Linked DNA regions of Homo sapiens: regions 1 and 3 are each linked to region 2. The links come from fine-mapping of genetic effects on gene expression. A gene starts in region 2. Each other region holds a variant in brackets. All regions are shown on one strand. Distances are from middle to middle. Region 1 overlaps SLC7A5 (solute carrier family 7 member 5). Region 2 holds the start of SLC7A5 (solute carrier family 7 member 5). Region 3 overlaps CA5A (carbonic anhydrase 5A).

The links. PIP is the estimated chance that this variant, and not a neighbour inherited with it, causes the effect.
Region 1: its variant is the best candidate, but not a certain one, in a credible set for the expression of SLC7A5 in whole blood (TOPMed, PIP 0.90).
Region 3: its variant is the best candidate, but not a certain one, in a credible set for the expression of SLC7A5 in whole blood (INTERVAL, PIP 0.50).

The regions. Positions count from the first base shown.
Region 1 is chr16:87,843,569-87,852,240 of GRCh38, reverse strand. It overlaps SLC7A5 (solute carrier family 7 member 5), which reads left to right. Exons shown (of 10, transcript NM_003486.7): 2 at 392-517. Among named protein-coding and RNA genes, the nearest start is that of MIR11401, 6.0 kb to the left of the region's middle. RefSeq lists enhancers at 1-148, 1,055-1,960, 1,804-2,098, 1,961-2,867, 7,825-8,672. The variant G/A (reference allele first, on the strand shown) is at 5,787.
Region 2 is chr16:87,866,772-87,876,125 of GRCh38, reverse strand. SLC7A5 (solute carrier family 7 member 5) reads left to right here and starts at 6,619. Exons shown (of 10, transcript NM_003486.7): 1 at 6,619-7,241. The coding sequence starts at 6,704. RefSeq lists enhancers at 1-132, 4,544-5,305, 4,662-5,861, 5,306-6,065, a cis regulatory region at 4,256-4,582 and a silencer at 6,306-6,655.
Region 3 is chr16:87,891,082-87,901,327 of GRCh38, reverse strand. It overlaps CA5A (carbonic anhydrase 5A), which reads left to right. Exons shown (of 7, transcript NM_001739.2): 6 at 9,374-9,529. Among named protein-coding and RNA genes, the nearest start is that of SLC7A5, 27 kb to the right of the region's middle. RefSeq lists an enhancer at 2,794-3,493. The variant C/A (reference allele first, on the strand shown) is at 4,676.

The DNA of each region.
Region 1 (8,672 bases), 24 kb after region 2:
GTAGGTACAAAAAGGTGTAATGGGCGCCTTCCAAGTGGCAGGGTCACCTTGCTCACCTGGGTCTCTGGAGGCAGTGACCCCACTTGAAGTCCTGACTACAGGTGGGACTCCATGGCCTGGTGTGGTGGGGGGTGAGGAAAGGTCCCTTGCAGATCTTAAGGGGCACCTGGGATCCAGCCCTTAGACCTGAAAGGACTGCGAAGTTTATCAAAACAGGTCTCAGAAAGTCAGAACGTGCCCTAAGGGCTGGCAGGGGACTGGAGCTGTTTAAGGAGCTTGTTTTTCTGGTGGACCTGGCCCTGGGGTGGGGGTGGGGTCGTCACCTCCCAGCCTACCCCTGAGCTGGCGTCTGTCTGCCCGTGGAACTCACCGCTGCCCTCTGTCTCCACAGTGCTGCTCACGGCCGTGAACTGCTACAGCGTGAAGGCCGCCACCCGGGTCCAGGATGCCTTTGCCGCCGCCAAGCTCCTGGCCCTGGCCCTGATCATCCTGCTGGGCTTCGTCCAGATCGGGAAGGGTGAGTACGTCCCCCAGGCCCCACCGGCGGCCCCTCGAGGCTTTGCCTGTGTGTCCTTCACAGGGCATGAGGTCCCGTCCCCGGGTGCCTCCCAGTCCGCAGCTCTGCAGTGCTGTACAACGTGGAGATTTCCCTCTGGGAAAATCACCCAGCAAGTGAAATCCGACCCAGAGGGGGACACAGGAGTGCTCCCGTGGGACAGCGTGGCCACCACTGGGAGGGGCTCTGGCAGTTTTTCTTGTTTTTTACGCTGCGATGTCTGTGAATCTTGAGAGCCCAGCTGATGCGTTGTAACCTCACCTGGGGGCGATGTGGAACATTCCAGGCCTGGCAGGGGCTATGCCTGCCATGCAGACCTCACCCGAGCCATCTCACCCTGGGTCTGTCAGAGTCCCACGTGCTGTCGCCCCTCACCCACCCCCGACGGGGCCATGCTCCTGGTCATGCTGTGATTCATTCATCATTCCATGGGCAGGTGTGGGATTGTCTCTGTGTTTCTGTCTGCTTTTTAAAGAAGATGAGGTAAGCATGGAAAACAAAACAAACGTGGTAACCCCATCACTCAGACGTGTCCACTGTTAGCATTCGGGAACAGGTGAGAGCAGTCTGGCGCACAGGTTTTAAGGCTGGCTGGCCCAGACTTTGGTCTTGTGCTGTGTGATCTTGGGGAAATCACTGATTCTGAGCCTTTTTCCCAGCTGCTTTTTCTCTTGGGGCTGGTAGAAGGAATAAAGAGAGTGAGTGTGAAACAGCCCCCGCCCCTTTGCACCTGTGTTCTCTGTTGACGTGGACTGACACAGTTGGTATTTTGCTGGGTGTCTCTGGACCCTTTAACACACACTCCATAGATCTGTGTTCTGTGTCTGCCTGCAGAGCCTCCACCCTTTCCACACTGCCATTCCGCGGTGAGGTCGGGCTGGGGTTTCATAAGCAGTTCCCATTTGTGTGGTCACAGACCCTGGGACACACTGTCCTTGGCACTGGATCCCACCCGTGGTTGGGTACAGTTGAAGTGGGGGGCCCTGTTGCTTGAGTCCAGCAGGGATGCCTCTGTCTGCAGTTCCTTCTGAGTTTGTCTCCATCCATGTTGGAGCCAGCCTAGGAGCAGAGCAGTTAGGAGCTGGCCTCCTTCTCTTCTCTCCCAGAGCCTCAGGTAGAGATGATCCCAGTCCTGGAGCTGTGGAGCTTTCGCTGAGTGCAGGCACCCGGCGGATGCACGCTCTGGTGACTCGCAGTCACCGATGGCTGCAGAGAGGCTGCCTGGTCCCACATGGCTGTAGGGGAGGCAGGTAGGACCCCAGGGCTGCAGAGGACAGGGCAAGGACCTTGCTCCTAGAGGCAGGAAGGTCCTCACCCAGCAAGCTGTGAGCTGCCCCGCCCCCATGCACGGCCAGGCCAAAACATGCAGACACAAGGACGCTGCCTCCTCCTGTGTGGGGCCCTGCCTCAGGGCTGGGAGGCTCTCCTGTGTGCACCGTGCCACTGGTGGGCTGTGAACTGAACAGTGCCCCGCAGCACCCAGCACCCAGCACGCAGCTTTAGCTGAGCCTCCGCCTTGCTCCTGGCGCCCCCTGCTGGCTGTACGTGGCACTTCGCCTTAGGACAAAGTCTGGCTGCAGCTGGGGAGGGGTCTCCACACCAAGCAGGTAACCTGGGCCTGCAGGGGGATGCAGTGCCGGGCTATACTGACCTCACCACAGCGAGGCGAGCTCCAGGGGCTGGGGCCAGACTGTCTTTATCAAATGTATCAATCTGTACAAAGTCTGCAGCAGGTGTTAGTTACCTGCCTCATCGTCGAGGGGAAGTCCCACTTGATTCCCAGGTGGCTCTGGAAGGTTGCCCAGGTCAATCCTTCAGGAGCTCGAGCCCATCCCCCATGCATGTGTCTGACCAGGGATTCTCAGAGTCGCCCGGGGTACCAGAGCCACCCAAGAGCTGGCAGGACAGGGCTGGCAGGAAGTCCCAATTCTGAACCTTCCTGGGACCTCAGGTTCCGGCACCTTACTCAAGGCAAGACGAGCTCATTCCATGGCTCCCGGGCACTCAGAAGTTGCCCAGGGAGGTGGTTGGGCCTGAGTGACATTTTACGGGCAGGAGACAAATCCATCCTGTGCCTCCCAGAAGTGGGCACGGAAGGGGTGCTTTGCTCGTGAAGGCCTTTGCTTGGCTGCGCTCATCAGATAGCCAGGAAAGATTTAGGAGGGGAACGTGATTTTTGTAAAAACAAATTTCGGTAGGGAGAGCAAAGAGCTTTTGTTCGACTTGAATACATAATAGGTTTATAATTCCGTTAGCTGTTGAAAGCGTCCTCCCACCGTGCTCCCCCCAGCAATTCCCTTCTGAGCTTTGGGATACAGTGCAGTGTCTGCAGAATTCCTGTCTCCTGTTTGGCTTCAACAGATTTATTTTGTTACCAGATGAATGCCTTGCTTTTAGAAGATACATTGTGTTGACCCCTTTCTCCCAAAGCAGTTGTCCAACTTTATACCCCCCAGTGGACGCAAAGCCCTTGGGCAGCTGCCCCCTCCCCTCGCTGGCACCTGGCAGCAGCGCCCCCAGATACTTCAAGGCAGAGACTCCGGCCTCAATTTTGCAACGACTGGCAAGTGGCCCTTTCCGGGTCTGGAGAATGCAGCGAAAATCTGGCAGAGCAGGCCTGGCCCACGCACCTGTTCCTGCCTGTCCCGCACCCTGGGTGCCCTGCTCCATTGGGGCTGAAAAGGCTCCTCCTTGCTGCCCTTGGCCCCCAGGTGGGCCCTGTGCTATGGAAAGGCACTGGCCCTAGGGTCCTGTAGGCCTTGGCTGACCTGTTTCCTCCTCGTCAGGGAAGTTTGTAATCACCCCTTCCCAGTTGGCCATCCGCAGAACCATCTTCTGTCCCGTGTGCCGCATCTATGCCGGGTCCCAATGAGAACATGGCCCCGCATCCAGAGCTCATGGGGGGACCTGAGAGCCATAGGCACGTGAATGGGAGAGTCGCAGTGGGGAATAAGCGGGGCCCTGGTGCAGACCAGAAAAGCCCTTCTGAGGGGTTGGGCCTTTCCTGAGATGCGGGCTGGGAGGGGCAGCTGGCTGAGTGACAGGGGCGACTCTGCAGGGGCCTGAGTGGTCGGGAGCCCTTGCCTCCTCCGCGTCTTGGGGGAGTCATGGCTGCCCCTAGGCTGGGGCATGGGGACACGCAGGCTTAGGTGTCACATGAGGTTCTACAGTTAGTCCCAGCCTTTTCGAAAGGGAGACAGTACTCATGAGGGTTCAGATCTGACCCACCGTCCCATGAGTCCACTCGCAGGCTGTTGCCTAAGGAGAGGGTGGCTGGGCCTTCGCCTGCAGGGCGGAGGGTGGGAGCGAGGGCACAGGCTCTGCCGTCCCAGCCCAGCAGCAGCAGCACGTCCCTCCTGGAGGACACAATGGGGCGCTTTGTGCTTTGCTTGGGCTGCAGCCGTCAGCGGCAGAACAAACTAATCTCTCCTTGAACAGTTACAGATTGGATAGTTGGGCAGATTTAAAAAAAAGGTTGCATAAAAACTTTCTTTTCCTTCTCCTCCCACATTGTACTGTTGGAGGTCAGTATTCCCCTGGAGCAAATTTGCCCTTTCACTCTGTCCACAAAAAGGAAAGAAAGCCGCAGCCTGCCAGGGCGGCGTGCCTCTTGCTGTCCTTCACCCCAGGAGGGGAAAATGCTTCCCCTGGGCAGGGCTCAGACCCCGGCTGAATGGCTTTGCTGAGCTGCTGGGCCCTGGGTCCCGGTGGCCGAGACCCCTGGATGTGACCTACACCTATGAGTAGGGCACTTCTGGACGGTCCCGTGTCCCAGGCGGTAAATACGTGTGTGCCACTGGGCTGTGGGGCAGGGGCCTGCATTTGTGTGTCACGTGACAGTTTTGAAATGATGGTTTTCCTTTGGTTCTTCAGCTAGTAGGGCCCCTTAGACTCAGAGAAGTGGGGTGCCCTGCCCCAGGTCCCACAGCCGTGAGCAGTGGGCAGGTCCCTCCCCACCCCCACTGTGACCCTGGGTGCAGTGTGCAGGGTCATGCGCTGCTGGGGGGAGGCCCACACCTCTGTTCCCAAGGTGCGTTCGGGTGGACAGCACTGGGCCCATCTGCTCTTGGGAGGTTCACGTGGGGTGTCATGTGTTACGGGAAAAGCTGACGGGACAGTTCCTGAGTAACACGTCCATCCTGAGAGGGTGGAGGTCTGGAGGACATTCCTTTTCAGACTGGTCTCTGAGCTTCACTGAGCTTCCTTGAAGGCAGCCCCCTGAGCCCCTCCCGATGTCCCTCCTGAGGAGCTTCCTGGAGGAAGAGGTGCCGCCTCCCTCATCTGGCCCTCATCTGGCTGGGGGTGTGCGGCCCTGTCTTGGTCTCCTCTTCCTGTGGGTGGGGGCGTCCAGCCCCCAGACGATGTTTCTGACAAAGGCCCCCTCAGTGGTCACAGCACATGCCCAGCTGCTGGGCTGTTCTGGTGAGAAAAACGTTTCACCCACACCTTGGCTGTCTGTGGCTCTGGGGTGTGGAGGGGTCGCCTCGTGGACTGAGAAGCCCCCCTGGGCTGTGGCTTAGAGCTGTTCCTTCTTCTGGGCCTGGCTTCACCTGAGTGTGTGCGTGGACCCATAGCTGGGCTTCTAGGCGCTCCCAGCAGAGCTCAGCCCAGCCTGCTCTCCGAACCCCAGATCAGGACTGTGGGCTTCTAGGGTGCCCTCCCGGAGAGAGGGCAAGGGCAGGTGCTAGATGTGCAGCTGCCTTGGGATTCTAGTTTTGCCGCCCCCCGGCCAGGGTGTCTGAGCCTCGGTGTCTTCCCCTGGGAAATGGGCTGTCCTCCCTTGCAGGGAGGAGGCCAGGCTCACCGCGTCCCCGGCACGGGAGCCACTGCCATGCAGGGTCCAACAGCCCCTTTTCCTCACCTCACGCCCTGACTGCCGCTTTCTCCGGGGGTGACAGCAAGAGCGGAGCAGGCCTGGGTGGGTGGGTCTCAGCTTCAGAGGGTCTGGTGCCAGGGCCCTGCTACCTGGATGCCGGCGGGAGAGTCGGTGAGAGGCCCCGCCAGGCCAGGGACCCTGATGCCCTGGGCGGGGTGCTCGGCCTCCTGGCTCCTAGACACCCCCTCGCTGTGTTTCCTTGTGGGAGAGTGAGCTGTCTGGGGCCTCCTCTTGTGTGGACAAGGATCCTGTCAGATCAGGCCCCACCCTGAGGACCCCACTTACCCTTAATCTGTAGAGGCCCCATGTCCACGTACAGCCACACCGGGGTTAGGGCTTCCACGTCTGAGTTTT[G/A]GGGGACAGGATGGAGCTTCGGGCCCCGCTCTCCTGGCAGGAAATAGGGCAAGCCCCAGGGCCTCAAAGTGAATCCCAGCTGGGTACAGGCTGTGTTAACCAAGGGAGGAGTCGGCCACAGCTCGGCCTCGAGCTGCCAAAGCTCACTTTCCAGAGAAGCTTCCAGGCTGGCCTGCCTGTGGGGGACTCCAGGGCATCTCTCTGTGAGGCATCTCAGACAGTCTCAGGGTCATGCAGGGACAGACAGGACATTGCGCTCAGGAGCTCCCAGATTGGTGCCAGGCTCGAGTGTGGCTCCACTCCGGACAACCTGGGCCTGGAGCCAGGGCTGCGGCGTTGGCTGCCCCAAGGGTGGGTACTTCGCGACTCAGGGCACCTCTTTTGGGCCTCGAAGACCTCGCAGTTGATAAAGGATGCTTGACCCGCCGCTTGCTCTGGGAGCTCAGTGTGTCCTGGGCCTGCCATTCTTCTGTGCCGTCGGCCTCGGGAGGATGACAGGCTGGGGAAGCTGGGGCTCTGCCGGTGCCGTGTGCTGGGACAGAATCAAAGGACGGGAGCGGGGCTTGTTTTCCCGCGGCCTTCACCTCCCGGTGCCCTTCGTCAGACGCATGGACAGAGGCCAGGGCAGCCACAGCCCTGTGCTGGGGACAGTTCTCAGGGTCTTTCCCCGCCTGTGGAGTTGGAAAAAGCTTTTACTTCTGGTGTGAGGTTGGCAGCTCTAAGCAAAGGGCCCACTCCTTCATGAGTTTCCAAGACCGACAGACACTGCTGGTGGTCCAAAAGTGCCATCTGGTTGCCGCCAGAACCCCCAAACCCAAATTCCTGCCCCATCACGGTTCCCAGGCATTAGATGGCCAGAGCGAAACAGGCATCTGAAAAGCGGCGCCGTGGCCTAGGGTGGGCGTGGACTCCGTGGGGTGGGCGTGGACTCTGCCTGGAGTGGGCATGGACTCTGGGGTGGGCGTGGACTCTGTGGGGTGGGCGTGGACTCTGCCTGGAGTGGGCATGGACTCTGGGGTGGGCGTGGACTCTGTGGGGTGGGCATGGACTCTGGCCTGGGCTCTGGACTGAACCCATGTGGCGGTCACTGCACGACTTCCCTGAGCCCACAGGGCAGCTAGCTCCAGGGTGCTGACCACATGGGACTCACAGCCCCCTCTTAGATGAGGTGCCATTGGCTGTGCACTCGGCTGGTGACTGAGAAGTGGGGTGTGAGCTGCAGCTGTCCTGCCCCTGACCATGCCTGATGCACTGAGAAGCCGGGAGGTCTCCCCTGGGTGGCACGGTTGGCCCCTCATGTGTGGTGACAGATGCCTACAGACTGGCTTTAGCAACAGACATGCAGACGGTCCTGGTCCTGGCAGCCAGAGGTCCAGACCCAAGGTGCCACCTTCCCCTTCCAGCTGCCCGTGGCTCCAGGCATCCTGGGCTGGCTCTGGCTCTGTCTCCCCTGGATCTGTCTCTGTGTCGCTGAGGACACTTGTCGTCGGCCTTAGTGCCTACTCTAATCCGGGATGATCTCATCTCAAGGTCCTTCGCTAATTGCACCTGCGGAGACCGCATTTGCAGCTAGGACACATCCCGCAGCTCCACTGGACGTGAATTTTGGGGACACTGTTCAGCACACTCCACCTAGAGCCCCAAGGGGCCAGAGTGGTTGGAAGGCGGAAGGCCCCAGCACAGTGGAAAGTCCGCGCTTGAGGAGTGACTCTCTTGTCCCTGAGGTGTTTCCAGGGCTGGGGCAGGGGCCCGTCAGCCCTGAGGTTCCGGGATGCCCTCCATCTCCACATTCCCATGTTCCCCACGCTGGGCAGGCTCTTCTCTCCAGGGACACTGCGTTCATGGGGAGACATCGTCCTCTGAGTCAGGAGCCAGAGGCTTGGAGGGTTGGCCGCATCACAGAGGAGGGGGAAGATCCCGTTCCCACGTGCGTTTGGCCACTGGGGGCGTCCCTGGGCCCCGTCAGCAGGATGGCTTTAGCCACCGGCGGAGTCTCCCCTCCAGCCTCGGGGTGGATGGTTCCCATGGCCGCATCTGCCTGACTCAGGGATCAAGGCCACTTTTCCCTGAAATCATCTCCCCAGGGCCTTTGGAGCGCTCGTTCCCACCGCAATTACCCCGCTCTCGGGGGAATCCTGCTGACAGGGCTGCTGTGCCGGGGTCGCCGCGGCGTTTGCAGTTTGCCTTCCCCCCACCCGGGGTTTGGCTGTGCGTTTGCTTTCATGGCAGCTCCACCAGCCCCTGAGGAAGATGCCTCTTAGGGACAAGGAAGGGGCTGGAGGGCCCCACTCAGGCTCTGCGCTGAGTCTGTTCTCGCGTCTCTGTGGGCTCTGGCAGATGTCACCGTCTGTCCACGGTGATTCTCTTCCTCACTTCCCTGTCACGCTGTCCCCTCCTTGTGGGTGGAGGCTGACTGGATAGCAGACTGTCAGGTGTGGAGGCTGGGTGGCTGCTGGATGAGTGGGCCGCTCAGCCATTCCTTCCAGTCCTGCCCAGTGCCTGGGGCTTCATGTCGAAGCCAGGACCACGCCCGAGTCTAGGGTCCATGGGAGAGAAAGCTGAGAGGAGCTGGTCCTGTCCTCCCGGCAGGGGTAGAGGCTCGTGGCTGATGCCTTGTCATGGTCTTCTTGCACAGGGCCTCAGCCTGGCACCTCTGCCACCGTGGGCTCTCTGTTGTGTGGGGGTGTCCCGTGCATTGCAGGACATCCAGCAGCATCCCCGGCCTCCTGCTCCGTGCCAGTAGCGCCGCACCCCGCCGTCGTGACAGCCCAGGTCTCCCGGTGTGCAGAATGCCCGCTGGTCATGCTGAGAGGTACAGGGGTGCTGCCCCCAGGGTTTGAACGCTGTCTAACTCCCACCTCTGGTGTGTCTCTCCCCTGTGTGTAG
Region 2 (9,354 bases):
ATGCTTATGAATCTGGCTGCCTATGTAAGTGGCGCCATCAGCGTGGCAGTCAGCATTGCCACGAGGATTAAAGGCCTGCCCTGGGTCTGAAGCTGGGCTTGGCCACTTACTGAACTGCCCTTTTTCTCCAACCATAAATGACAACTAACTATAGTTGCTGCAAAAATTAAATGGCATAGAGAGTGTGAAAGGAACATAAATCCTGGGACCCCACACTTGCTAACGAAAGGGAAAAGTGAAGCTGGTGACCGTGTCATGGGAACCAGCCTCCTGTTTCGGCTCCTAATTATTTAACAAACAGCTACAGAGATGAAAAGTTTGGCTGGGCTTGGTGGCTCACCCCTGTAATCCCAGCACTTTGGGAGGCCAAGGCGGGTGGATCACTTGAGGTTAGGAATTCCAGACCCGCCTGGCCAACATGATGAAACCCCGTCCCTACTAAAACTGCAAAACTTAGCCGGGCATGGTGGCAGGCGCCTGTAATCCCAGCTACTTGGGAGACTGAGGCAGAAGAATCAGTTGAACCCGGGAGGCAGAGGTTGCAGTGAGCTGAGATCGACCCACTACACTCCAGCCTGGTGACAGAGTGAGACTCCGTCTCAAAAAAAAAAAAAAAAAAAGATGAAAAGCGACACACCTCCCTCACATTTTGCCCATAAGGAAATTCCTTGTGGGCTCCAAGATCTTTACCCTAAGCGCTTCTGTTAAAGTTCACCCTGGCAATGTGAACCGTTAGCTTATCTTCACAGGTGCTGGGACGAGGGGCAGAACTGAGTCATCCCTCCGCCCACCTGAAGCAAATGCATATCTCATTGTTTCCGCTGCCCTATCGTCTAGGGTATCTTACGTGAAACGGCAGAGTCACTAAACCAGACAAAAACTTGAATTTTCCCCTACCCCCTTCACATGAAAATTGTGTACTGCCCAATATCCTGCCCTTCCCCCTTTCAATATTGAAGCCCTCAAAATCATCTTCGGAGAAAGGCATAGACCAGTCTCTCAGGTGCGCGTCCCTAATGTTGGCATTTAAAGCTAAAATGACGGAGACTTGCCTCGGTCGTCTTCCTTGACTGGCAAGAGTCTTTAAGGCCGAACACTGACTGAGTGGCTGCCCTACACACCTATCTGCCTGGAAACAGAACGGAATTTCTGATCGTACTCAGGGCAGCCCCACCTTGTCAAGCATGCAGATAGGAAAAGCTCACCTCTGAGCATAATAAAAGCATGGCTTTCAAAAACAACCTCCAGAAGAAGCAAGGACCCTTGCTATGTTAAAAGATGCAGGCATTTCTCCCCTGTGACTGAGAACCAGCCCGGCAGGGGACTCACAGGAGAGAGGCGGCCCCAGGAAGCCCCACTTCAATTAAGGGTTGTGAAGCCAGCAAATCTGAGACAGGCCTCCTTTAATTTAGAAAGCGTATTTTGCTAAGGTTGAGGGCGCACCCGTGACACAGCCTCGGGAGGTCCGGACCGCATGTGCCCAAGGTGGTTGGGGTGCAGCTTGGTCTTATACATTTTAAGGAGACATGAGACATCAATCAAGTACATTTAAAAAATACATTGGTTTGGTTCAGAAAGGCGGGACAACTCAAAGCAGGAGGGGGGCTTCCAGGCTAGAGGTAAATGTAAACATTTTCTTTTTTTTTTTTTTTGAGACAAGAGTTTCGCTCTTCCACCCAGGCTGGAGTGCAGTGGCACAATCTTGGTTCACTGCAACCTCTGCCTTCTGGTTTCAAGCGATTCTCTTGCCTCAGCCTCCCATTACAGGCGGTGCACCAACACGCCCAGCTGATGTTTATATATATATATGTGTGTGTATATATATGTGTGTGTGTGTATATATATGTGTATATATGTGTATATATACGTATATATGTATATATGTGTATATACATATATGTATATATATGTGTGTATATATGTGTATATATATGTGTGTATATATGTGTATATATGTGTGTATATATATGTGTGTATATATATATATATATATATATATATTTTTTTTTTGAGACGGAGTCTCGCTTTGTCACCCAGGCTGGAGTGCAGTGGTGCGATCTCCCGTCACTGCAACCTCCGCCTCCCACGTTCATGCCATTCTCCTGCCTCAGCCTCCCGAGTAGCTGGGACTACAGGCGCCCACCACCACGCCCAGCTAATTTTTTTGTATTTTTGGTAGAGACGGGGTTTCACCATGTTGGCCAGGCTGGTCTTAAACTCCTGACCTCAAGTGATCTGCCTGCTTCGGCCTCCCAAAGTGCTGGGATTACAGGCATGAGCCACCGCACTCGGCCAATGTTTATATTTTTAGTAGAGATGGGGTTTCACCATGTTGGCCAGGCTGGTCTTTAACTCATGACCTCGAGATCCCCCCGCCTCGGCCTCCCAAAGTTCCCAAATCGCTGGGATTACAAGTGTGAGCCACCGCGCCCAACCAATTTAAACATTTTCTGGTTGACAATTGTTTGAGTTTGTTGTCTAAAGACCTGGGATTGTTGCCGAGCATGGTGGCTCACGCCTGTAATCCCAGCACTTTGGGAGGCCGAGGTGGGCAGATCACCAGGAGTTCGAGACCAGCGTGGTCAACCTGGTGGAACCCAGCCTCTACTAAAAATACAAAAATTAGCCAGGTGTGGTGGCAGGTGCCTGTAATCCCAGCTACTCGGGAGGCTGAGGCAGGAGAATCACTTGATCCCGGGAGGCAGAGGTTGCAGTGAGCCAAGATCGTGCCATTGCACTCCAGCCAGGGCGACAGTGAGACTCTGTCTCAAAAAAAAAAAGAAAAACACAAAAGACCTGGGATCAGTAGAAAGCAATGTTTGGAGGCCGGGCACAGTGGCTCACACCTGTAATCCCAGCACTCTGGGAGGCCAAGGCGGGCGGATCACGAGGTCAGGAGATGGAGACCATCCTGACTAACACGGTGAAACCCCGTTTGTACTAAAAATACAAAAAAATTAGCCGGGCGTGGTGGCAGGCGCCTGTAGTCCCAGCTACTCTGGAGGCTGAGGCAGGAGAATCACTTGAACCCAGGAGGCGGAGCTTGCAGTGAGCCGAGATCGCGCCACCACACTCTAGCCTGGGCGATAAGTGAGACAAGAAAGAAAGAAAGAGAGAAAGAGAGAAAGAGAGAGAGAGAGAGAGAGAGAGAGAAAGAAAGGAAGGAAGGAAGGAAGGAAGGAAGGAAGGAAGGAAGGAAGGAAGGAAGAAAGAAAGAAAGAAAGAAAGAAAGAAAGAAAGAAAGAAAGAAAGAAAGAAAGGAAGGAAGGAATGTTTGGGTTGTGGTGAGGCTGTGGAGATGAAAGCTGTATCATGCAGATGAAGCTTTTAGCTAGGAGGCTTCAAAGAGAACAGGCTGTAAAATGTTAATCTTTAAGTCTGATAGACTTCAAGTATGTGTTGGTGTTAGTGCTGGAGAGGTCTAAAGAGGCCGTCCAACCCCCGATTCTCTTCCTGGCCCAAACCAGTCTTTCAGGTTAAATGTTAAGAGCCCTGGCTGAGGAGGAAGTCTGTTTAGATGTCTGGGGTGGCCCTTAGAATTTTATTTTTGGTTTACAGGGTTTACCAGGTAAGTCGTTTTCCTGGGAAAAAGAACGAGTTGAAAGGAAGAGCAAGGATCCGCTCCGGACCTCACTCCTATATTTTGCTGAGATGAAAACCACAATCCCTGCACTGCGAGACTCATCTCATAATTAGAAAACAAAGGATTATCCACCGGGTTCTCTCCCCTCGCCCTGTGGCCTTGCTGCTCCCCTGCAGTTGCTCCAAATGACAAAATAATGACGGGTTCGCCTTGTGAGAGAGGGTGGCCTGCTCAACTCCACGCTGGCGCTCTGAGGGGGGCAGAAGATGCCTCGTCTCATTTATGTTGCAAACAGCCTTAAAAAGGACCTGCAGGGCGCTGGGCGTGGTGGCTCACGCCTGTAATCCCAGCACTTTGGGAGGCTGAGGCGGGCGGATCACGAGATCAGGAGATTGGGACCATCCTGGCTAACCCCAATTCTACTAAAAATACAAAAAATAAAAAATTAGCCGAGCATGGTGGCGGGTGCCTGTAATCCCAGCTACTCCGGAGGCTGAGGCAGGAGAATTGCTTGAACCCGGGAGGCGGAGGTTGCAGTGAGTTGAGACTGTGCCACTGCACTCCAGCCTGGGTGACAGAGTGAGACTCCGTTTCAAAAAAAAAAAAAAGAAAAGAAAGTATTCTCCCAACCAGCTCAAGCGAGAGTGCCACAACTTTTTTTTCTTTTCTTTCTTTCTTTTTTTTAACCTCTGAAAATACACAACATGTGATAAATTACTGACTGGAGCTGAAAAGACCATTGTCCTGCCTCTGTAAAAATCAAAACGCTGCCGAATCTTTCCAACAGATGGCACTCTTTGCTAAGATTCTAGAGTCATAGCTTTCAGGCGAAGGCGTTTCAGGGCCGGCATCAGGGACGTCTGAGAGGAGTAGATTTGCTGGATAAATCTAGAATGTTGTCATATGAAAACCCAGTAAAAACCGACAGAGGTGGCGTAATAGCTGTGTGACTTGAACACGCTCATGGCTGTTGTCACCCTTCCTGCTTAAGGGCTCCAGCACTTGCCAGGAGCCTGGCTCTGGGGGCACCAACCATGACTTGCACCAACTGTGCAGGGCCCCCTCTGTGCCGGTGGGGACCCCTGCACCTCCCTTATTAATTCTCACTCACCCTGGGCTCTCAGCTCCAGGTACCACCTCAGAAAAGTCTATCTGGACCTGCCTGGTCCCTGTCGCTGTCGCTGGCTCACCCTGTCATGTCCTTGGCTTATCATGGTTGTAATTTTATGCTTTGGGGTATGACTGTTGGTTGCCTTTCTTGTTACTCAAAGAAGAATGGTGGAATGATTAAAAGTACCATATAAGTTCAGAGTCAAAAGGACAGCTCCCAGGCTACTTGCTGGCCGGACAAGCGAGGTAACCCTACCAAGCCTCAGCTTCCTTATTTGCAAAATGGCTCTAACTGGCACCTACCCTATTGCATAAGAAGCTGTCTAGGGGAGGACTCAGTGAGCACTCGGTGAGTTTGCCCAGCCATGGTGGTACTGTCTCCTTCCCTCTGCAGGCACAGCGGGAAGAATAGGGCAGATGGAGGGGTCTCTGCACCTTCCACAGCCAGCAATGTGGACGGCAGATTACAAGTTAGTATCTGTGTGACCTCCGCACTCCCCCGCCTGTGGCTGCCTGGGCTGCTGAGATTTCGCTCGGTTTTATCACCGCAGAGGAATGCCCGACATACCGGGGGGCGAGCAAGGTCCAGAATGACAAGCCCTGGCATTCCTCAGCCGCCCCCTCCCTGGGGTGGGGCCTGGACATTCCTGGCTGCAGCTAGAGGTCCCAGCACGACAGGGATTCTGACCCCCCTCCACCACGGCTATTGTTCAGAATTCTGTGGATTCCAGAGGCATCTGCCCAGCAGACTGTCTTGCTGTGAACACCCAGCTCTGCAACCGGTGTTTGCGTGTTTGCCCTGGGAGGCTGAACGCTCACCCAGAACAAAGGCCTCCCCACATGCCTGCTGTGAGCTTCCAAGGACTCGTTTGCACACACGCCAAGGAACCCCGGGGTGGGGTGATACTGAGGAGCTTCCTCCCTGACCCACACACACCCTTTGAACAGGTCTTTGGCCGCTCACCAGTCTGGTCAATCTCGGGGCAGTATTTATATTCCTTCCCATTTCCAGGCCTAGGAGCCTTGGCATCCTGCTCTCGCCTCTAACTGAAATTACCTCTCAACCCTTTTTAGCTAAGATGCCTCTCGCATTCCCTAGGAATAACAAGCTTTAAAGCCCCTTCACACTGAAGCCTGCCTTTGAATTCCCCAGGTAGATTTGGGGGTGGGGGTCTTATGGCTCCCAGCGAACCCCCGGTTCTGTTGATTAAATTGAGCTCAGGCAGATTGCTGGCTTCCCAAAGCCTGTGTTATTACTGCTTCTCAAAGCTACGGGCACCGGATCGCCGTCTTTGGCAAGATTCTTTTGGGATACAATGGGAATTACTGGGTGGCCTCGGTTCGGTTCTTCCCTCGTCCCAGTTCGCGGCTCACCAGCCCCACTGATGCAGCCCCCAGGCTGGAAGGAGGCTGCAGGAGCTTCCCCTCAGGTCATCCTCTCATCCCTCCCCCGTGCCCCAGGAGCTGGTTGTGGGGGCGGTTCCATCCCCTCGGCCCATCCGGGACAGGAGCCTAGGTTCCCTTCGGGGGGTACCCCAAACTCCATCCTTGGCCTCAGGCCAGCCCTGGTGCACTGCCCGCTCCCAGGCTTGACGAGAGGCTGCGGGCCAGTGGGTGAAGGGGCGCGCCCTGACTGCCAGGCCCCGCCCAGGCGCATCCGGGAGGACGGGCTGGGATGACGCGGGCGCCGGGAGGGGGGAGGTCGCGAGGCCGGGGTCTCCATGGCGCAGGAGGACTGGGGCCTTCGAGGACCACGCGGGCCTGGGAATAGCCCGCCAGGCTGGGCCGGACGACGCACGTGCTCCGAGCTGGGCCGAGGGGGCGGGGCTGAGGGACGGGGCCGGGCCACGGGGCGGGGAGGAGCCGCGGACGGTGGGCGGGGCCGGCGGGCCGGGGCCTAAAAGGCGGCGCGGGCGGGGTTCCTGACGCAGCTGCGGGCGGCGGGCGGCGCGCACACTGCTCGCTGGGCCGCGGCTCCCGGGTGTCCCAGGCCCGGCCGGTGCGCAGAGCATGGCGGGTGCGGGCCCGAAGCGGCGCGCGCTAGCGGCGCCGGCGGCCGAGGAGAAGGAAGAGGCGCGGGAGAAGATGCTGGCCGCCAAGAGCGCGGACGGCTCGGCGCCGGCAGGCGAGGGCGAGGGCGTGACCCTGCAGCGGAACATCACGCTGCTCAACGGCGTGGCCATCATCGTGGGGACCATTATCGGCTCGGGCATCTTCGTGACGCCCACGGGCGTGCTCAAGGAGGCAGGCTCGCCGGGGCTGGCGCTGGTGGTGTGGGCCGCGTGCGGCGTCTTCTCCATCGTGGGCGCGCTCTGCTACGCGGAGCTCGGCACCACCATCTCCAAATCGGGCGGCGACTACGCCTACATGCTGGAGGTCTACGGCTCGCTGCCCGCCTTCCTCAAGCTCTGGATCGAGCTGCTCATCATCCGGCCTTCATCGCAGTACATCGTGGCCCTGGTCTTCGCCACCTACCTGCTCAAGCCGCTCTTCCCCACCTGCCCGGTGCCCGAGGAGGCAGCCAAGCTCGTGGCCTGCCTCTGCGTGCGTGAGTACGGGGCGCGGGCCGGGGGTTGGGAGGTCGTAGTCTCTGGGTCCCTGCATCCTTGCATCACTACGCCCCTGGCTCCCACATCTCTACATCTTTACGTTCCTGGACCATCCCGGCAGTTCTAGGCTAAGGTCATTGGTCCCAGAAACCACGTGCGTTTCTTTCATTCATTCTTTTACACTTCTCCCCACAGGCTGGGAATATCTTCAGTGACGGGACAGCAGGGTCCCTGCCCTGCCCTTCGGTGGGCATTCCATTCCCCCACTTAAGCGGTTTAGGCAAGTGCCACCCTCCCGTTGGCCCCGCTGAGCAATACTCCCAGCCTCTTGCGTGGCACCCACGTGGAGTAACTGAGCAATCGGTTTACTGTTAGAGCTCCGATTGCTGACTGGTTGGTGAGAAGGAAATTGCAGTTAAAAAAAAAATCATTCATTTCTGCTCTCCACACCAGCTCGTCAGGAATCAGTGACACGGGCTGACTCATAAGAAAACAGTAGTAATAACATCGTGTGCGGGTAGTGACTGGTGCTGATTTAGGCTAAGGGATCCCCCCTGAGGGTTCCCAGTAGTGAGAGAGCGGAGCTTGGCTGCAGATTCAGTCTGTGTTGCAGTGAATGGACGTGCGGGTCCCAGGTTTCTCTGGGAAACAGCCATGGGGCTCCTGTTTTGGTGGGCATGGTGCTGGTGTGTTCTTCACCAGGCCAGAGATAACTGCTTTTCAAAATAGTTTTCTTTTTCTTTTTCTTTCTTTTTTTTTTTTTTTTTTGACACTGAGTCCCGCTCAGTCGCCCAGGCTGGAGTACAGTGGCACGATCTCGGCTCACCGCAAGCCCGCCTCCCAGGTTCATGCCATTCTCCTGGCTCAGCCTCCCGAGTAGCTGGGACTACAGGTGCCCGCCACTACGCCCGGGTAATTTTTTTTGTATTTTTAGTAGAGACGGCGTTTCACCGTGTTAGCCAGGATGGTCTCGATCTCCTGACCTTGTGATCCGCCCGCCTCGGCCTCCCAAAGTGCTGGGATTACAGGCGTGAGCCACCGTGCCCGGCCTCAAAATAGTTTTCTTGTGGGATTTCAGGGGGAAAATCACTTGTAGCAGATGCCACATGATTTGGTTGGGTGGCGTGGGAAGGTGGGTCTTGGCAATTCTCAGATTCATCCCATGGCATGGATCGGCCTGCATCTCAATAGTGTGTGTACACATTCAAGGTGGGAAGGGCTAATTTATAGTTGGGGTCTTGAGCCATGAAATCAGGGGAGTGGCTTCTGACTGGCAGGACCTGTTGGCGCTGTTTTCTGCCACACCGTACTTTGGGGGGGAGGGGGAGGGGGAGGCATTTCTTCATAAATGTGAGAATGCCCCGAGGGCAAGACTCAGCAGGGCTCTGTGTGGTTTCTCTGAGGCTCTGAGTCGAGCAGCCGCACCACCATGCAGGTCAAAGCCGGGAAAAATCGTAGCAGGACAGCAGTGGGGAGAGCCTGTGCCTTCCAGCTGGGCGTTGGAGATGTGAATGTAGGGGATGACTCTGATTTCTTTTTTTGTCATTAGAATTTCACTGGTTCAGTCTCCCTCCCGCCTAGGTACATGTCGGCCCGGTATGTAACGACATGGATAGTAGCTTACGCAGCCTGCACTCTTATCTTTAAAAAATGAACCCCTGGTTGGCTGGGTGTGATGGCCCACGCCTATAATCCCAGCACTTTGGGAGGCCGAGACGGGCGGATCTACCGAGGTCAGGAGTTCGAGACCAGCCTGACCAACATGGTGAAACCCCATCTCTACTAAAAATACAAAAATTAGCCGGGCAGAGTGGCTCACGCCTGTAATCCCAGCTGCTTATGAGTCTGAGGCATGCTCCGGGATGTGGAGGTTGCAGTGAGTTGAGATCCCGCCACTGCACTCCAGTCTGGGTGACAGAGCAAGCCTGTCTCAAAAAAAAAAAAGCAGCCCCTGGGTGCTGAGTCTCTGACTTCCTGCTGGTGCCAGGAGTGAGTCGTGGGAAATGCTTCATTGGCCACCAGGAAGGAGACGTAGGATGGGGCGCTGCCTAGTTTTCTCTTTCTAATAAAAATCACATCAGTCATACATGAATTCATCATCATTTAAAAATT
Region 3 (10,246 bases), 25 kb before region 2:
CAGCCATGCAGGCGAGATCCTGAAGACGTTTGACATATCTGCCTGCCAATGGGACAACTTTCTACTGAATATTTTTCTTTTCTTTTCTTTTTTATTTTTTCGAGGAGTCTCCCTCTGTCACTCAGGCTGGAATGCAGTGGCGCGATCTTGGCTCACTGCAACCTCCGCCTCCCGGGTTCAAGCAATTCTCTTGCCTCAGCCTCCCATGCGGCTGGGACAATAGGTGTGCGCCACCATACCCAGCTAATTTTTGTATTTTTAGTAGAGACGGGGTTTCACCATGTTGGCCAGGCTGGCTGGTCTCAAACTGCTGACTTCAGGTGATCCGCCCGCCTTGGCGTCCCAAGGTGCTGGGATTACAGGCGTGAATCACCGCGCCCAGCCTAGTTAATATTTTTCTTTAAATTGATTAGCTCGAAAAATTTTTAGCCTTGTCCTGGGTGATGGTATTCACTAATGATAAAGTTTGTTTTAAAACAGATTGAAACAAAAACCTCAAATCCCTAACTAATAACATTTAAGAATGTTGACTCATGTACCACCCAGCACTCTCCTTGAACGTCCCTGTCCGACCCCAAGCCCAAGGGCGGAGAGAAACCTGCCCAAACCGCAGCTCTCCGCCCAGCGATCCATAGGCTTCCCTGTATCCAGCGCAGCTCGAAAAGATGGTGGGGACAACAGTGTCGCCTTTCTCCAAGATCAGCTGAGAAAAGGCTTTGAGGGAGAAGGAGAAATTCCAAAGAAATGTAGTTTATTTATTCAGCAGCATACAAAAGAATTCCAGGGCAGAAGGAGTCAACGCAAGCCTCACATGTGCGGACGGATGAGGCTTCAACCTGTGTTAACAATGGTGGAGGCTGGTCCAGATGGAGCTGGGACCAGCCCTTCCTCGCGGTTCAAGGAGACGTTTGATCTGTACGTGGCCTTCGCCTTGATGCTGGCTTCGGGGTGGCCTCCTGGGACTGGGACCAGATCACCCCCTGCCGCCCCATCTGCCTGCTCAGGAACTTCACAAGGCCACGGTTCTGAGAGCTCTGACGCCCCATCCTCTTCCTCCACGCGGCTCCACAGCCAGAGGAAACCTGGGCAGGGGTTGTTTTCCCAGCCAGCCTCCACCTCCCACACCAGGTGGTCCCACCTCTTGGTGGGAAAGAAAAGAGCTGATTGTGAAGGACCCTTTACCCAAGGGCTGTTTTCCTCCCGGGGAAGGTTCTGGAGCATTTCTTCTCCATGGGGTAAGTCAGAATTTTCTAGGCAAACCACAGGGGAGGAATGATGCCCGGGACAGGGGAGGAAGTGCCACCGCGGACTGAGCTCTGGTCCTGATGCTGATCTCTGGGCTCATCCCCTCAGCTGAAAATAAAGAGTTAGACTCTTTTTTTTTTTTTTTTTTTTTTTTTTTTTTTTTGAGATAAAATCTCGCTCTGTTGCCCAGGCTGGAGTGCAATGGTGCGACCTCGGCTCACTGCAACCTCCGCCTTCCAGGTTCAAGTGATTCTCCTGCCTCAACCTCATGAGTAGCTGGAAGTACCGGCGCCCACCACCATGCCTGGCTAATTTTTGTATTTTTAGTAGAGACGGGATTTCACCATGTTGGCCAGGCTGGTGTCAAACTCCTGACCTCAAGTGATCTGCCCACCTTGGCCTCCCAAATTGCTGGGATTACCGGCGTGAACCACCGCACCTGGCCGAGTTAGACCTTTGAGAAATTAAAAGACCTTAAGAGGCTGGGTGCGGTGGCTCACGCCTGTAATCCTAGCACTTTGGGAGGCCAAGGCGGGCTTATCACTTGAGGTCAGGTGTTCAAAACCAGCCTGGCCAACATGATAAAACCTCATCTCTACTAAAAATACAAAAATTAGCCAGGCGTGGTGGCGGGTGCCTGTAATCCCAGCTACTCAGGAGGCTGAGGCAGGAGAATTGCTTGAATCTGGGCGGTGGAGGTTGCAGTGAGCTCAGATTGTGCCACTACACTCCAGGCCGAGTGACACAGCGAGACTCATCTCAAAAAAAAAAAAAAAAAAAAAAAAAAGACCTTAGGAGGTAAAAGGCCCAGCCTTGGGAGCAAGAGTCTGTGCTTCATGGGCCAGGGAATGGGAAGAGACTTGAACAACTCTCTCGCCTAGAGGCTCCTAGCCTAGGACTTCTGGGAGCTTCTCCCATAGCACAGTGTATCAGAGAGCCCCACAGTTGGACTCCTGGGTTCAGAGCCCAGATCCACCACTCCTGAGCTGCGCACCTCTGAGCCTCAGCTTCCTCGCCTGTGAAATGGAGATATTAAACATCCACAGTAGCCCAGGTATGGTGGCTCACACATGTAACCCCAGCACTTAGGGAGACTGAGGTGAATAGATCACCTGAGGTCAGGAGTTCAAGACCAGCCTGGCCAACATGGCAAAACCCCGTCTCTACTAAAAATACAAAAATTAGCTGGGTATCGTGGCACACTCCTGTAATCCCAGCTACTCAGGAGGCTGAGGCAGGAGAATCGCTTGAACCCAGGAGACGGAGGTTGCAGTGAGCCGAGATCGTGCCACTGCACTCCAGTCTGGGTGACAGCTCGAGAATCCGTCTCCAAAAAAAAAAAAAAAAAAAAAATCCACACTAGAGCAGCATTCTCACCATGTAATGGAATAAGGAGCATGTCTGGTTCTTGGTGAAATGTGCAGTTGAGTTTAAGGCCCAGCTGTGGCCAACACTCACACACTCAAGTCTGCTGTGGAAGGCACAGGCTGCTGCTGCCCGTCACGAAACGAAAATCCACCAGCCCAATCACTAAGGTTAAAATCGCTTTTTGTTGCTGCGGGTGCTTTCTGTCAGGTGATTCCCAGAGAGAGCTATTACCTTCTGGGAGCCCATGAAATTTTAGAATGATGGCCTTGTGATGGAAAATGCTAGAAGTGTGGTTGAATCTAATTCCTGATTGGTGGGCAGTGCAGGGCAGGACAGGGCCATGGTGGCCTCAGGCTCAAGGGCAGATGGCCTTGGCTTCAAATCCCAGCTCTGCCACTCCCCCGCGGACTCAGCAGTTCTCACCCAGGGACGGGCTCACCTGCAGCTTCTGGGCTGCTTTCCTGGTTTCCTCCAGTTAAGGAACAAGTTGTCCTGAATTAGGGCAGGAAAGACCAGAGTCACGTAGTCCCCATCATCTCTCCTGGTTCCAGGCTGGTCCGGGCCCTGCTGTGGGACTGACTCGGCAGAGACCCTCCAGGAATGCCTGCCACGGTCACTCCCTGGGGACCCAGCTGGCTTCTATGCAGTGCTCAGGGCTCCAAGGGTGCATTTCCAGAAAGAGCCAGATGGACACGATGTCCTTTTCTGCCCTGGCTTCCAGAGTCACAAAGCACTGCTCCTGCGGCATCCTGTTTACCACTCCCGTCAGGAGCACCTGCCCAGGCTCAGGGCAAGGGGACATCACCCTACACCTCGGCGGAAGGGGTTCAAAGAAGCGACAGCCCTCCACATAAATTATCACACTGAATCTTCCAATCACTCCACGGGGCAGGGCCTGTGATTCATCTGTCTTGCACACACAGGAAAACCAAAGCTCAGAGAGGCAGAGAAGGCCTTGCCCGAGCACACAGCTGGCAGGTGAAGAGCCCGTTTTTAAACCCAGGAAGTGGGTCCACGCAGCCTGAAGTCCCAGTCATCCTGGCGCCCACCTCCCGCATGCAGTCAGAACCCAGGCTGAGCTCCAGCCCCTGCTGCACATTTCTGAGCTTTTCAGCAGCTTAGAGGGAAACACAGGCAGTGTCTGTAACCAAAACCACATCAGGCGCTGCCTGGAAGCCTGGACCCCCACCCCCACCCCCAGCACCATCCCATCTGCACAGGCCCCTACCAGTGCCGACCTGTCACTATGCACTCAGCTCCCAGCACGCAGGCACAGCCCCAGTGTGGTCCTGGTGACCCCGGGCAGACAATTCCAGAATGGAGACCTCAAGGCTTCGCCTTTGACCCTCTCACCATAGCCAGAAGTTTTGGCAAAAACTGCCCACAGAGGGTCCCCACCCTCCATGCCTGGACAAGCCGCAAGCTCCTCAGGCTGCTGGGGTCCCCCCTCCTCCCTGCCTTCGCAACAGTCAGAGCTACCGGGGAATTGGCTGCCTTGTGGAGGTGGAAACAGCCCACCAGGTCCAGGGGATCCAGGGAACGGCTCTGTGCCCTGTGGGGGCTCTTCTAGCTTTGGCAGCAGCAGCGGCAGCACCTACTGAGCCCCACGCCCACGTGGCAGGCACTGATGGAAGCCCATTACCGCCACCACACTGCCTGTCGTACACCTGGGGAAACTGAGACTCTAAGAGGACAAAGCAAGGGCGGAGTTAGGCTGGGTGGGGCTTGACGCTCATAAAATGTGGGGTCCTGTTTAAGAGAAAGAAGACAAAACCAGGAACAGAGCGTGGCTCACGCCTATAATCCCAGCACTGTGGGAGGCTGAGGCGGGCGGATCACCTGAGGTCAGGAGTTTGAGACGAGCCTGACCAACATAGAGAAACCCCATCTCTATTAAAAACAGAAAAGTAGCCAGGCGTGATGGCGCATGCGTGTAATCCCAGCTACTAGGGAGGCTAAGGCAGGAGAATCGCTTGAACCTGGGCGGTGGAGGTTGTGGTGAGCCGAGATCGTGCCATTGCACTCCAGCCTGAGCAACAAGAGTGAAACTCTGTCTCAAAAA[C/A]AATAAATAAATAAAAGAAAAGTGGAACAAGTCACCAACCCACTTCCACCAGCAAAGGCTTGTGGTGCTTTCCACAGGTAGCTGGGCCATCCGTGCTCAGATAATGGATGTGATGGTCTTCAGCCTCATTGGTGTGCTCACCGGTGTCCCATTCTAGCTGCCTGAGGATCACCACATGCATAAAGGAAGGGCCCTGATTTGCTTTGGGGGCCCTGAGGGGGAGCAGTTTTCTGTAACCACATGGCTGCTCCAGCCCTCATGCATCTTAGAGACAGGACAGGAACTCCTGGGGACGATGAGGCAACACACAGGCATCCTCTTCTCAGCCCAAGGCAGAAAGCTTAATTGGCAAGAAACCTACCCGCAGTGGCATGGCTGGAGCCTGCCACTCCCCTGACTGATTCCTGCAGCCTTGGGGAGGGAAGGAAGAGCCCGCACCTCGGAACGGGCCAGGCCTCAGTGGCCCTGACTGGCAACGTGGCTTTGGGCAAGTTTTTTATATCTGTCTGTCTATCTTCATCAGTAAACTAGAAATACTTCTCAAAGGGTTGTTCTGAAGATTTGAAGTAGTTGCTCAGAAAGTGACTGGCACATCTGTGCCCTGGGGATGTGTGGCAGGCAGGAGGAGACGGACGTCTCACTGCACACCCGCCTGTTACCCACGTGCACCAGACTGATGTCTCACTGCACACCCGCCTGTTACCCACATGCACAAGCAGTCTGCTCCTTCACAGCCCAGCTAGAGCGTGCAATGGGATGTCAACCCAGCTAGACCATGCAGTGAGATATTACTTGGCAATCAGAAAGGACACAGCTCTAACTCATGCTGCGGTGTGGGTGAGCCTCAAAAGCGCCGTGCTGAGTGAGAGACACAAGACACAAATGTTCCACATGTTACATGACTCAGTTCCTATGAAACCCACAGAGACAGAAGCAGCAGGGCGGGGGTGGGGACCATAGCTAAAAAGTACCAAGCTTCCCCCTTGAGGTGGAAGTTCTAAAATTGACTTGGGATGGCTGCACAACTGTGAATATACCCAAAACCATAGAACTGTACCCTTCAATTTTTATTTACTTTTTTTGTTTTTTGTTTTTTGTTTTCTTTTTGAGATGGAGTTTCACTCTTGTTGCCCAGGCTGGAGTGCAATGGCATGAGCTCAGCTCACTGCAACCTCTGCCTCCCGGGTTTAAGTGATTCTCCTGCCTCAGCCTCCCGAGTAGCTGGGATTACAGGCATGCGCCACCACGCCTGGCTAATTTTGTATTTTTAGTAGAGACATGGTTTCGCCATGTTGGTCAGGCTGGTCTCGAACTCCTGACCTCAGGTGATCCATCCGCCTCGGCCTCCCAAAGTGCTGGGATTACAGGCGTGAGCCACCGTGCCCAGCCTATTTACTTATTTTAAGAAAGGATCTCACTCCGTCACCGAGGCTAGAGTGCAGTGGTATGATCACAGCTCACTGCAGCCTCAACCTCCGGGGCTCAAGCCATCCTCCCACCTCAGCCTCCCAACTACCTGGGACCACAGGCGTGCACCACTGCACCTGGCTAGTTTTTGTATTTTTTGTAGAGTCAGGGTCTCGTTATGTTGCTTAGGCTGGTCTCAAACTCCTGGCCTCAAGCAGTCCTCCCACATCGGCCTCCCAAAGTGCTGGGATTACAGACATGATCCATTGCGCCCAACCAGGCTGTACACTTTAGATGGGAGAGTTGCATGGTATGTGAATTCTATCACAATAATGCTGTGGGTTTTGCTGCTGCTGCTGTTGTTTGAGACAGAGTCTCTCTCTCTGTTGCCCAGGCTGGAGTGCAATGGTGCCATCTCGGCTCACTGCAACCTCTGCATCCTGTGCCAAAGCAGTTCCTGTGTCTCAGTCTCCCGAGCAGCTGCGATGACAGGCACCTGCCACCATGCCTGGCTAATTTTTGTATTTTTAGTAGAGATGGGGTTTCGCCATGTTGGTCAGGCTGGTCTTGAACTCCTGACTTCAGGTGATCTGCCTGCCTTGGCCTCCCAAAATGCTGCGATTACAGGCATGAGCCACTGTGCCCAGCCTATAATGCTGTTTTTTTTTTTTTAATTAACTGGATAATTATAAACGTGAACATGCGTGCATAGAACTGATGCATGTGTCTGCCAGTGTGGACACTCCCGGGCTTCCTTCTGGTAGCTCAGCCACCTCTCTTGACCCTGACCCTCACTGCTTGATGTTAGGAGACAAGCCCAAGGCATCTGGGTTGCCAGCTTCCACCTTGGAAGGCCAGGGCCCAGCAAAGTCAAGGTGATGTGATGTGGCTGAGCAGGGAGGCCATCTTCCTTGCAGACAGGGACTCTGTCACTTTGGACTGGACTCTTGTCCCACAGTGCTGGCCAGGGGCAGGTGCAGAGCTATGCTTGGTTGGCATGGGACGCTGATGAGGGCTGTGTTGCGGCCAGGCCCAACCACCGTGAGCTGAGATCATGCCACGGCACTCCAGCCTGGAAGACAGAGTGAGACTCTGCCTCAAAAAAAATAAAAAAAATAAAAAGTTATAAATAGAACTACCCTATGATTCAGCAATCACACACTTCTGGGTATATATCCAAAAGAGCTGGCTGGGCACAGTGGCTTATGCCTGTAATCCCAATATTTTGAGAAGCCAAGGCAGGAGGATCGCTTGAGCCCAGGAGTTGGAGAACAGCTTGGGCAAGATGGCAAGACCCCCTGGCTACAAACAATTAATTTTAAACCCTGGTGTGGTGTCCTAGCTACTTGGGAAACTGAGGCGGGGGGATCGCTTGAGCCCAGGAATTAGAGCCTGCAGTGAGCTATGATGGCATCATTGCACTCCTGCCTGGGTGACAAAGTAAGACCCTGACTCTTTTTGTTTTTTGGCTGTGAGTGTATTCAATGCAAAATAATCCTCTCTGATTTTACTGAGGTAGCTGGCCATGTCCACGACCAAATCTGCCTTTAAACTGGAATTCGGTTGCTGACCCAGCCCGAGCCTCGGCTATCTTGTCGGCACCAGGGGCACAGCACTCCGTCTGTAGGTATGTCTGTCAGCTTCCCCTCTTGTGAGTCTTGCAGGTCGCCCACCCTCCAGACCTTTAGGCCGAGGCCTGCCAGTCCCTGGACGGCTGCAGCATAGGGTGGCAGGCACAGTTTCCAGGGACAGATGAAGGTAATCACGGAGATACTGGATGCCCTCATTGGTAAGGTAGCAGTAGAAATGTCTCCAGGCAAGCCGGGCGTGGTGGCTCACGCCTGTAATCCCAACACTTTGGGAGGCCGAGGTGGGCAGATCACGAGGTCAGGAGATCGAGACCATCCTGACTAATATGGTGAAACCCCGTCTCTACTAAAAATATAAAAAATTAGCTGGTCGCGATGGCGTGAAGATGTAGTCCCAGCTACTAGGGAGGCTGAGGCAGGAGGATCGCTGGAACCCAGGAAGCAGAGGCTGCAGTGAGCTGAGATCGCACCACTGCACTCCAGCCTGGAGACTCTGTCTGAAAAAAAAAAGAAAGAAAGAAAGAAAGAAAGGAAGAAAGAAAGAAATGTCTCTAGGCAAACTGTTCCTTCAGGCAGCCTCGGGGCTTGAGAGACTGCATGGCCTTCGTGACATGAAGGTTGGGCACATTCTTGTCTGCCATCTCCGGGTGCTTAGGCATGTGGACATCCTTCTTGGCCACCATGACTCCCTCCTTAAAAAGGAGCCCATAGGCCGGGCACAGTGGCTCACCCCAGCACTTTGGGAGGCCAAGGCGGGTGGATCATCCGAGGTCAGGAGTTCAAGACCAGCCTGGCTAACATGGTGAGACCCTGTCTCTACTAAAAATACAAAAATTAGCTGGGCGTGGTGGCAGGCGCTGGAGGCTGAGGCAGGAGAATCGCTTGAACCTGGGAGGCAGAGGTTGCGGTGAGCCAAGATCACACCATTGCACTCCAGCCTGGGCAACAAGAGCAAAACTCCATCTCGAAAAAAAAAAAAAAAAGGTTAAGATGGTAAATTTTATGTTATGTATATTTTATCACAATAAAAAGTAATATTTTTTGCAGCCAAGGTATGCTAAAAGAAATGGCTTTATTTTTATTTTTATTATTAATTAATTTATTATTATTATTATTATTATTATTATTATTATTATTATTATTATTTGAGACAGAGTCTCACTCTGTTGCCCAGGCTGGAGTGCAGTGGCATGATCTCGGCTCACTGCAACCTCTGCCTCCTGGGCTCAAGCGATTCTCCTGCCTCAGCCTCCTGAGTAGCTGGGACTACAGGCGCCCACCACCACATCTGGATAATTTTTGTATTTTTAGTAGAGACAGGGTTTCACCACGTTGACCAGGCTGGTCTCGAACTCCTGACCTCAAGTGATGCACCCGCCTCGGCCTCCCAAAGTGCTGAGATTACAGGGGTGAGCTACTGCGCCCCAAGAAATGACTTCAAAAGGAAAAATGTGAGCACCAACGTAAGCTGGTGTAATGTAACGTAATTCCCACCAATGTAAGTTGGCAGGAATCCTTGCTCTGTATAGAAGGGTCACATTTTCTCATCACTGCTTGCAAGTGTGACAGCAGTGGCCTCATGGCCTTATCTGGGGGAAAGCACTTCCTTCCAAGCACCATGAAGGCCTCACGTGCTGAGACAAGATGGAAGCTCCTAGTCTCCCCTGAGGACTGACACGTCCTGTGCTTCTCGGTCTCTCAGGACGCGCGGGCGGCCATGCGCCCCTTCGACCCCTCCACTCTGCTGCCCACCTGCTGGGATTACTGGACCTACGCGGGCTCGCTCACCACCCCGCCGCTGACCGAGTCGGTCACCTGGATCATCCAGAAGGAGCCCGTTGAAGTGGCCCCAAGCCAGGTGAGCCGTGCCCGTAACTGGCACGATGGCGCTTCATGGAAGGCGTCCCTCTTGCTTGGCAGCGTCACTAAGATGCTGCATGAGAGCGTTGTGGAGTTATATATATTCTTTCATGCATTTGGGGCATTCTTACACAAGAAGAAAATTCCAACTGAAGTAGGAGCTTGTTGAGATTGGACAGCGGTTCCAGTGATCACAGCAAGCATGTCCTGAGCAACGCCCTAATCTATCACACACAGACACACGAGGCATCCATGGGAGTTGTCCCAGGGTCATGGGTCTGCATGGTTTTTGTTTTCTTCCTTTTTCTTTTCTTTCCTTTTTTTTTTTTGAGACAGAGTCTCGTTCTATCGCCCAGGCTGGAGTGCAGTGGTGCGATCTCGGCTCACTACAACCTCCACCTCCTGGGTTCAAGCGATTCTCCTGCCTCAGCCTCCCAAATAGCTGGGATTACAGGCACCCATCACCACGCCTGGCTAATTTTTGTATTTTTAGTAGAGACGGAGTTTCACCATGTTGGCCAGGCTGGTCTTGAACTCTTGACCTCAGGTGATCTGCCCACCTTGGCCTCCCAAAGCGCTGGGATTCCAGGCATAAGCCACCGAGCCCGGCCTCCTTTTTCTTATCTAAATAGTTTCATTGCTTTTTTTTTTTTCGAAAATTAATTAATAATATTTGTATACACTTTTTAAAGTTATACTCTTGGGCTGGGCGTCA